Regions from separate parts of the Homo sapiens genome. Here region 2 is linked to region 1. Evidence: fine-mapped expression QTL. A gene starts in region 1. The other region holds a variant in brackets. All regions are shown on one strand. Distances are from middle to middle.

Region 1 (5,393 bases):
CCTAAAAAAAAAAGCTACTAACATCACATCAATTTCCAGGTTCTTCCAACTTGCGGAAGGATGTGTAGACCAAGCTTTTATTCTATTTTGTGACCAAAGTCTTGGGAAAAGAAGAAAATTGTTAGCATTTTCATGTCAAGCATACGAAAAACAAAAAAACAAAGCCAACCAACTGAACAAAGAACCCAACTTTTTTTAAAAAACTTGGTGGTAAGAGTGCTTTGTTCTGCTTCTCCATAGATAATGATTTATAGAAGGAGAACAAAATATAATTTCTGCTACTAAAACAATAATAGCAAAAAATAAATAATCAATATTGAGAATCCAATAGACAGAGTTAACAACCAGTTAGACATAGAAGAGAGAATTAGTGAATTGGAAGACAACTATAAAGAAAGAAGCCTAAAGAGACCACAAGACAAAGAATGCCAAGCTAAGAGGATAAGAGGCATTGATGCTACAATCAGAGCATCTAACATACTTCTGGATTTCTGGAAGATTAAAAGGGATAAAATAGGGCAGAATCAATGTTGTGGAGATTTTCCCAAAAGTGATAAAATGTATTAATCCATATATTTTTAGTAACCATCAAAGGTCAGACAAGATAACTAAAAACAAATTAACATAAAATGTCACAAGACATCAAAGACCAGTAGAAAATCTGAAAAGTAGCCAGAGGAAAAGATAGATTATTTTAAAAGGAACAACTTTCTAAATGACAACCTGATTTTCAACAGAAAAATGGAAAGTAGAATTCAATGGAATCATGTCTTTAGTGTGTTTCAAAAGAATAGAGGACCTTCATAAACAGAAATCCAAATGATATTTTTCAGATAAAAAATATTGAAAATACAAGGTTAAGCATGCAAGAAGGAATAAAAATTAACAGAAATGATAAATATGTGCATAATTCTAAATGAATGTTGACTGAATAAAATAATAGCGTCTTGCTGAGTTAAATATATTATTGATAAGATATATGCAAATAGCGATAAAGAGACTGGAGGTAAAGGTGACAGGAACAAATTTAGATAAATTATTTTTTGCACTTTTCTATGTCTGTGAGGATAATTTGAACACCACATTTAATGACCCCATAATAGGAATTGCATCAAATGATATGTGAAATAATGCTGATAGTAGTATTATTCATAATAGCTCAAAAATAGACTGCCCAAATATATATTAACTAAGGATGATTGAATGATATGAAAGATTACAGTAAATCCATACAGTGGAACAGTATATAGAGGTGAAAAGAAATGAATCACATGTACATGCAACTATGTAACTAAATTTCAGAAACATGATATCTAGTGCAAGAAGCCATGAACAAGAAGAACACACAGGACTGCACCTATACACAGTTCAAAGCAGGACAGACCAAGCTGTGGAGTTTAGGGTTGTGAACCTAGCTGGTAAAGTATAAAGAAATTCAAGCAAATGATCATCATAGATTATGAATATTGCTTATCTCAGGAGATGTGAATAAAGGTTTAGGGGCTTGGAAAGTGGCCTGGAAGTGGACCTAGTCTGTTTGCAGTGTTCCATGTCTTATCCTGCATGATGGTTACATAAGTGTTTATGATACATTGCTCTTACCTATTTTTGTTTTGGCCCATTTCTAAGTGTGCATTATAATTTTATTTAAAAAATTACAAATTGGGAGAAATGTCACGTAAAAATTATTAATTGCTCTGCTCATTATATACCTAGGGGGAAAATCCACCATTTACGTACATTCTTATACAACTCAAGAGAGCTAAAGTGAATTCTTATTTTAGTTGCAAAATGGAGAAATTTGAGATGCTGTTACCTACAGCCTCCAGATCTTTCCAAAAGTTTTCTTCTAGTTTTAGATATTCACCTCATATTACAAAAACTTTGATATTTCCAACCTATTTTTCCTTTGGCTCCTGAATTTCTGACACAACAAGGGCGCACATATTTCTCAAACTCTTGGATTAGCAGAGTACCTATATCACTTAGCTTTTTCTGCAAAAGAAACTTCTCCAAAACCACATTAGATATTTATATCTCACATGTTTTTGGATTCTGTTTTCTTAAGCTGGGGTTTGGTGGATGGCTCTGGTGATTTGAGATGGTCCAAGTTTTGCCTCTTGGATCTAGTTAGAGTTTGGCCGATTTAAGGCTGGATCAGGCAGGAGCCATATGATTCCATGAGTTACTCATTCTTATTCTGGGAACAGTGTGTTAGTGTGGACATGTTCTCATTATAAACCGGAAAGGAACAAGAAAGCCTAATGTGGAGGTCATCTCAAATTTCGATGTAAAGTGTAGTAATTTTCTGTTCATCAAAGCAAATTACATGATCGAACTCAGAGCCCTAGTGCAAGGTTGTCACTATGCCTGTGGTGGGAGGACACTGCAAAATTATGTGACAAAGGTCTGGTACTCAGGAATGTTTACAAGCTTGCAGGTAGCATTACCAAAAGCCTAAGCATGAGAGATATGTTTCATGAATATTATTCATTGGCTGAAAATCTGGCATGGGAAAAATAGGACTAATTCCACCAGGACGAGCTCCTGGAAACTCATTTTCCATGTCATAAGTTACAAGAAAGCAATTCCTTCCATCCTTGAAGAGTGAAAGTGTGTGTGTGTCTGTGTGTGTGTTTATGAGCTTGTTAATAGTGATGCCATATAGAAGTATTGGTTAACAGCAACCAAATTATAAGGAGTATTGGCTTTCCTGTGGTTTCCAAGAAAATCTTAGGTGATTTTGATAAAAAGTTTAGATTCTGTGTATTTAAATCTGGCTTTAAAAATAAATCCATAGTGATTTTGATCCTAGATTTCACCAGGCTCTTTTAACAATATATTTTTTGTGTCATCTATGTACTGGGTATTAAAATTTCCCCAACAACTGAAGGGCTGAACACAAATTATGGAAAGGTGAAACAAGGAAAAAATTGCAAAGCAATGAAAGAGGATATGTCTTTATTTGAATGCTAGCAAATGAGAATTCAGCTTTCCCTTCAACATCAGTATGAAAAATTTCAGCCTATAGCAAGAATAGAGACTTTATGAATAAGAATTAATTTGAGTTGTTTTGGGACTAACAGTATTTCCCATAAAGGCAGCATTGAACTCATTCATTAGTTTAAGCTGGTGCTTTTCTGTTGACATTGTTCACAGAATTTAAAAGTATAAAGAATGTTATTGGACATTCAGGAATCAAGTGCATATTTAACTTAAAGTCTTGAATATCAGAGGAGTCACCATCAGTGACATTAGGCCTGAATTTTTTACTTGCTTTTTTGTTTAGACATGATGAGTTTTCTACACATTGTTTTTTCCATTCTAGTAGTGGTTGCATTTATTCTTGGAAATTTTGCCAATGGCTTTATAGCACTGATAAATTTCATTGCCTGGGTCAAGAGACAAAAGATCTCCTCAGCTGATCAAATTATTGCTGCTCTGGCAGTCTCCAGAGTTGGTTTGCTCTGGGTAATATTATTACATTGGTATTCAACTGTGTTGAATCCAACTTCATCTAATTTAAAAGTAATAATTTTTATTTCTAATGCCTGGGCAGTAACCAATCATTTCAGCATCTGGCTTGCTACTAGCCTCAGCATATTTTATTTGCTCAAGATCGTCAATTTCTCCAGACTTATTTTTCATCACTTAAAAAGGAAGGCTAAGAGTGTAGTTCTGGTGATAGTGTTGGGGTCTTTGTTCTTTTTGGTTTGTCACCTTGTGATGAAACACACGTATATAAATGTGTGGACAGAAGAATGTGAAGGAAACGTAACTTGGAAGATCAAACTGAGGAATGCAATGCACCTTTCCAACTTGACTGTAGCCATGCTAGCAAACTTGATACCATTCACTCTGACCCTGATATCTTTTCTGCTGTTAATCTACTCTCTGTGTAAACATCTGAAGAAGATGCAGCTCCATGGCAAAGGATCTCAAGATCCCAGCACCAAGATCCACATAAAAGCTCTGCAAACTGTGACCTCCTTCCTCATATTACTTGCCATTTACTTTCTGTGTCTAATCATATCGTTTTGGAATTTTAAGATGCGACCAAAAGAAATTGTCTTAATGCTTTGCCAAGCTTTTGGAATCATATATCCATCATTCCACTCATTCATTCTGATTTGGGGGAACAAGACGCTAAAGCAGACCTTTCTTTCAGTTTTGTGGCAGGTGACTTGCTGGGCAAAAGGACAGAACCAGTCAACTCCATAGATTCACAAGAGGTGCATTGTGTGTTTTCTAGCAGAAAACAAATTGATGGTGTCTGGAACATTTTATATTTCCCACAAGTTTTTCCGTAGTCTATGTATTTGAGTAATTTCCAAAAGTTGACATAGAAAAGTCTTTTACCTAAGTTTATTATATAAAAGTATATATATATAATATACATTTGCGTGTGTGTGTATGTCTGAATGTATATGAAAATTTAATATTTACCATAACATACCTTTAATCAACTTTTCATATAAACTGTTCAGTTATACCAAAGTAGGATAAGAAATTTCTCAGAATTATGAACCCATGTGTATTTCACACATTTTTTTATATGATATTTCATTTGAGGAATTTATGATCTCTATTTATAATTAAGAACTGACAGCTTATATCAGAAAATCATTGCTGTTTTTCGTTGTAAAATCATTGCTGTTTTTCGTTGTAATTTGTATCACGTATATGTACCATAGTGTGTTTAACTGTTTAACTATCATTGTTTGAACCTCTAATTTTTTGGATGGTAAGGACATTTAATTCTAAATCGATGAGAATGTGTCTTTGGGGTAGGTTTTTTTGTTTTTTTTTTAATCATGAATTCTTTTTTTCTTTTTTTTGAGATGGAGTCTTGCCCTGTTGTCCAGGCTGGAATGCAGTAGCACAATCTTGGCTCACCACAACGTTCACCTCTGGGGTTCAAGTGATTTCCATGCGTCAGCCTCCTGAGTGGCTGGGACTCCAGGCATGCGCTACCACACGTGGCTAATTTTTTGTATTTTTCTTTTTTTTTTTAGTAGAGATGGGGTTTCACCATGCTGGCCAGGCTGGTCTCGAACTCTTGACCTCAAGTGATCCACTGCCTCAGCCTCCCAAAGTGCTGGGATTATAGACATTCATGATGAATTCTTATTTTATGTTTAATATAAAGCAAATACAATTATTGTTAGATAACAATGCACAAAATAAAATTCAAGGGTGAAAAATATATCTAGTGTACATTTTTATGTGTATCAAAAGCAATACTGAGGAATATTATATTTAATATAGTATGTTAATAGCTTAGAAAAAATCATTTCTATAAAAAGGATGAAGAAACATGATCATGAGCTCTTTTCAGTGCTGTTATAAGTTTCCATACGCAATTAGAAAAGTCATCTCTTCCAGTTTTTGAA
Region 2 (5,393 bases), 150 kb before region 1:
TATTATTATACTTTAAGTTTTAGGGTACATGTGCACAATGTGCAGGTAAGTTACATATGTATACATGAGCCATGCTGGTGTGCTGCACCCATTAACTCGTCATTTAGCATTAGGTATATCTCCTAATGCTATCCCTTCCCCTTCCCCCAACCCCACAACTGTCCCCAGAATGTGATGTTCCCCTTCCTGTGTCCATGTGTTCTCATTGTTCAATTCCCACCTATGAGTGAGAACATGCAGTGTTTGGTTTTTTGTCCTTGCCATAGTTTACTGAGAATGATGATTTCCAATTTCATCCATGTCCCTACAGAGGACATGAACTCATCATTTTTTATGGCTGCTTAGTATTCCATGGTGTATATGTGCCACATTTTCTTAATCCAGTCTATCATTGTTGGACATTTGGATTGGTTCCAAGTCTTTGCTATTGTGAATAGTGCTGCAATAAACATACGTGTGCATGTGTCTTTATAGCAGCATGATTTATAGTCCTTTGGGTTTATACCCAGTAATGGGATGGCTGGGTCAAATGGTATTTCTAGCTCTAGATCCCTGAGGAATCGCCACACTGACTTCCACAATGGTTGAACTAGTTTACAGTCCCACCAACAGTGTAAAAGTGTTCCTATTTCTCCACATCCTCTCCAGCACCTGTTGTTTCCTGACTTTTTAGTGATTGCCATTCTAACTGGTGTGAGATGGTATCTCACTGTGGTTTTGATTTGCATTTCTCTGATGGCCAGTGATGATGAGCATTTTTTCATGTGTTTTTTGGCTGCATAAATGTCTTCTTTTGAGAAGTGTCTGTTCATGTCCTTTGCCCACTTTTTGATGGGGTTGTCTGTTTTTTTCTTGTAAATTTGTTTGAGTTCATTGTAGATTCTGGATATTAGCCCTTTGTCAGATGAGTAGGTTGCGAAAATTTTCTCCCATTCTGTAGGTTGCCTGTTCACTCTGATGGTAGTTTCTTTTGCTGTGCAGAAGCTCTTGAGTTTAATGAGATCCCATTTGTCAATTTTGTCTTTTGTTGCCATTGCTTTTGGTGTTTTAGACATGAAGTCCTTGCCCATGCCTATGTCCTGAATGGTAATGCCTAGGTTTTCTTCTAGGGTTTTTATGGTTTTAGGTCTAATGTTTAAGTCTTTAATCCATCTTGAATTAATTTTTGTATAAGGTGTAAGGAAGGGATCCAGTTTCAGCTTTCTACATATGGCTAGCCAGTTTTCCCAGCACCATTTATTAAATAGGGAATCCTTTCCCCATTGCTTGTTTTTCTCAGGTTTGTCAAAGATCAGATAGTTGTAGATATGCGGCGTTATTTCTGACGGCTCTGTTCTGTTCCATTGATCTATATCTCTGTTTTGGTACCAGTACCATGCTGTTTTGGTTACTGTAGCCTTGTAGTATAGTTTGAAGTCAGGTAGCGTGATGCCTCCAGCTTTGTTCTTTTGGCTTAGGATTGACTTGGCGAAAGCAAGAGCAAACACATTCAAAAGCTAGCAGAAGGCAAGAAATAACTAAAATCAGAGCAGAACTGAAGGAAATAGAGACACAAAGAACCTTTCAAAAAATTAATGAATCCAGGAGCTGGTTTTTTGAAAGGATCAACAAAATTGATAGACTGCTAGCAAGACTAATAAAGAAAAAAAGAGAGAAGAATCAAATAGACACAATAAAAAATAATAAAGGGGATATCACCACCGATCCCACAGAAATACAAACTACCATCAGAGAATACTACAAACACCTCTACGCAAATAAACTAGAAAATCTAGAAGAAATGGATAAATTCCTTGACACATACACTCTCCCAAGACTAAACCAGGAAGAAGTTGAGTCTCTGAATAGACCAATAACAGGATCTGAAATTGTGGCAATAATCAATAGCTTACCAACCAAAAAGAGTCCAGGACCAGATGGATTCACAGCCGAATTCTACCAGAGGTACAAGGAGGAACTGGTACCATTCCTTCTGAAACTATTCCAATCAATAGAAAAAGAGGGAATCCTCCCTAACTCATTTTATGAGGCCAGCATCATCCTGATACCAAAGCTGGGCAGAGACACAACCAAAAAGAGAATTTTAGACTAATATCCTTGATGAACATTGATGCAAAAATCCTCAATAAAATACTGGCAAACCGAATCCAGCAGCACATCAAAAAGCTTATCCACCATGATCAAGTGGGCTTCATCCCTGGGATGCAAGGCTGGTTCAATATATGCAAATCAATAAATGTAATCCAGCATATAAACAGAACCAAAGACAAAAACCACATGATTATCTCAATAGATGCAGAAAAGGCCTTTGACAAAATTCAACAACCTTCACGCTAAAAACTCTCAATAAATTAGGTATTGATGGGACGTATCTCAAAATAATAAGAGCTATCTATGACAGACCCACAGCCAATATCATACTGAATGGGCAAAAACTGGAAGCATTCCCTTTGAAAACTGGCACAAGACAGGGATGCCCTCTCTCACCACTCCTATTCAACATAGTGTTGGAAGTTGTGACCAGGGCAATGAGGCAGGAGAAGGAAATAAAGGGTATTCAATTAGGAAAAGAGGAAGTCAAATTGTCCCTGTTTGCAGACGACATGATTGTATATCTAGAAAATCCCATTGTCTCAGCCCAAAATCTCGTTAAGCTGATAAGCAACTTCAGCAAAGTCTCAGGATACAAAATCAATGTACAAAAATCACAAGCATTCTTATACACCAATAACAGACAAACAGAGAGCCAAATCATGAGTGAACTCCCATTCACAATTGCTTCAAAGAGAATAAAATACCTAGGAGTCCAACTTACAAGGGATGTGAAGGACCTCTTCAAGGAGAACTACAAACCACTGCTCAATGAAATAAAAGAGGATACAAACAAATGGAAGAACATTCCATGCTCATGGGTAGGAAGAATCAATATC[G/A]TGAAAATGGCCATACTGCCCAAGGTAATTTATAGATTCAATGCCATCCCCATCAAGCTAACAATGACTTTCTTCACAGAATTGGAAAACTACTTTAAAGTTCACTGATATCTTAAATAAGGCAGAAATGCTCTTTAACATCTGTAGAACTCAACATTGTTCTAGCACTTTTAGCTAATGTAATAGGACAAGCAATATAAACTCATCTAGGAACTGGAATGAGATAGACAAATTTACAGTATAATGATGTGATGATGTCACTGCTTAAATGAACACTCCTAAAGAATCAACAGGTACTATTAGCATAAGAAAAGATAACAAGGTTCTTCATATAACATCGATTTACCAAAAAACAGTGTATCTATTGCCAACAGTAAATTACAATATGTAAATTTAAAAAATTCTTTGGCCAGGTGTCATGGCTCATGTCTGTAATCCCAGCATGTTGGGAGGCCCAGGCAGGTGGATTCCTTGAGTCCAGGGGCTCGAGACCAGCCTGGGAAACCTGGTGAAACCCTGTCTCTACTAAAAATACAAAAATTAGCGGTGTGTGGTGGCACACACCTGTAGTCACAGCTACTCAGTAAGCTGAGGTGGGAGGATCTGATCTTGGGAGGCTGATGCTGCAGTGAGCCGAGATCGTGCCACTGCACTCCAGCCTGGGCAACTGGAGTGAGACATTGTTTCAAAAACAATACATGAAGAGATGTATCATGTTCATAGATAAACTGAGTATTATAAAATATAATTTCTTTCTAGATTAATATAGTCAATGCAAGTTGTGGCAAAGTCTTATTAAAGTTTTGTGAAAATTGTGAAAAATGACTTGAAAAATACATATAGAAAATTAACAGTTCGGAGATAGGCAAGAAAACTTGGAAAAAGAAGGAGGTAAGTTCTTTACTGGGTATCAAGATTTATTATAGTGTAATTATGAAAATTGAAAGAATTTTGGCACAGAAGGATGCAATAGACAACAAAAGGGAATAGTAAGGCAGAATATATTTAGGTAATTTACTTTTTGTGCACATGTAATTTGTCTTATAATAAGATTATCATTAGAAATTAGTAGATAAGATGTGTTTTTTGCAGTAAATTGTTTGGATAATGGACTTTTCATAAGGAGGAAAATCAGTGTGTAACTTGTATCACAAAAAATAGTCCAAAAGGACTAAGATCTAAACATTAAGAACAAAATTTAAAGCTAAGAAAAATGTAAATTATTTTATAAATTCAGGGTAGGTGAGGATTTTATCTGAAAGATACAAAAACCACGAAACATAAAGGAAAAGTTTGATAAGTTTTAAATTCCTTGGAAAGATCTGTTAATTAATCCAGCTAAGTTAGCTGTCTGACTCTAGTCTAATTATACATCTAGGCATTTGATAATGAATACAGAAAGAGTATTAAAACTAGGAATATATGGATGAAATTAAAAATACTCATTTTACCTAATAAAAAAATCATGTTCTTAGATGACATTCTCATTGTTGTGATGACATCAATTCTTGCCAAATTCAGGTATACATGTAAGATGTTAAGGCAAATATTGCCATTTTTTTTCTCATTTAGAGTAGTTTATTATGCTAAGGGCCTGGGAAACACTTTAGATTCAGTAAAAAAACTACCTAGAAGAATAAAGCAGAATGAATACTAGAAAAAGACTGAAAGAAAAAAAATGTGTAAAGACGCACAGAATGAGGAACATCTGTTGGTAAAATATATTATAAAAATACTAAAAAGGTATCCAGATAGTAAAAAGCTCAGAAACATGAAAAATCTCTTTCACTACTGGTAGAAGCATATAGTAGGATATAGTCAAAGCGAATTTAGCATAAAAATACATACACTTTATATCTATGTATCTATGTACACATACTTTTTGATATGCATGTATAACTACATATTTCTGAAACGTTTCTAAAAATAATCATAAAATGATTACAGATATGCAAAAACAGTTATAGAGCTATGTATAGTTTGTTAACATTAAGATAAAAGCCTTAACATTTTTTATGCTTAAAAACATTATAATGCTTCATTATAGCAGAATACACATTTGTCATTAAAAGAGATATAGAGCAGAATTTCTCAGAGTTCAGCAGAATATTCATAGTTGTTACAAAAAAAAAGTTCTTAATTTTTAAATATTTTAGGCAATGCTGGCTTAAGCGACTTTAACCTTTTTGTTTGTTTTTAAATCATAAGCTTTCTGTATACTCTGTTAGTATGTAAAAGGAAGTGCTCTATGTGGAGTTTCCCAAATTTCCTTTTCTGTGAAATCCTTTTCTGTTTTAGAAAATACCTTTTAATTCTAACATTTTCAGGAATTTAATTTGAGAAATTCTAATATTGAGGGATTATGTATCAGTGAGGAACAATTTCATTTTTTAGAACATGTAGACTGGGTATGGTGGCTCACACCTGTAATCCTAGCACTTTGGGAGGCCAAGGAGGATAGAT

Evidence for each region. PIP is the estimated chance that this variant, and not a neighbour inherited with it, causes the effect. A credible set is the group of variants that fine-mapping cannot tell apart.
Region 2: its variant is the best candidate, but not a certain one, in a credible set for the expression of TAS2R20 in whole blood (TOPMed, PIP 0.84).

What each region holds. Positions count from the first base shown.
Region 1 is chr12:10,995,774-11,001,166 of GRCh38, reverse strand. TAS2R20 (taste 2 receptor member 20) reads left to right here and starts at 2,863. Exons shown (of 1, transcript NM_176889.4): 1 at 2,863-5,206. The coding sequence starts at 3,292. The coding sequence ends at 4,221. All of the region lies in intron 3 of PRH1-TAS2R14 (PRH1-TAS2R14 readthrough), which reads left to right. The region is part of intron 3 of PRH1-PRR4 (PRH1-PRR4 readthrough); the gene reads left to right. It also overlaps a transcript of PRH1 not described here.
Region 2 is chr12:11,145,432-11,150,824 of GRCh38, reverse strand. All of the region lies in intron 1 of PRH1-TAS2R14 (PRH1-TAS2R14 readthrough), which reads left to right. The region is part of intron 1 of PRH1-PRR4 (PRH1-PRR4 readthrough); the gene reads left to right. It also overlaps a transcript of PRH1 not described here. Among named protein-coding and RNA genes, the nearest start is that of TAS2R30, 13 kb to the right of the region's middle. The variant G/A (reference allele first, on the strand shown) is at 2,931.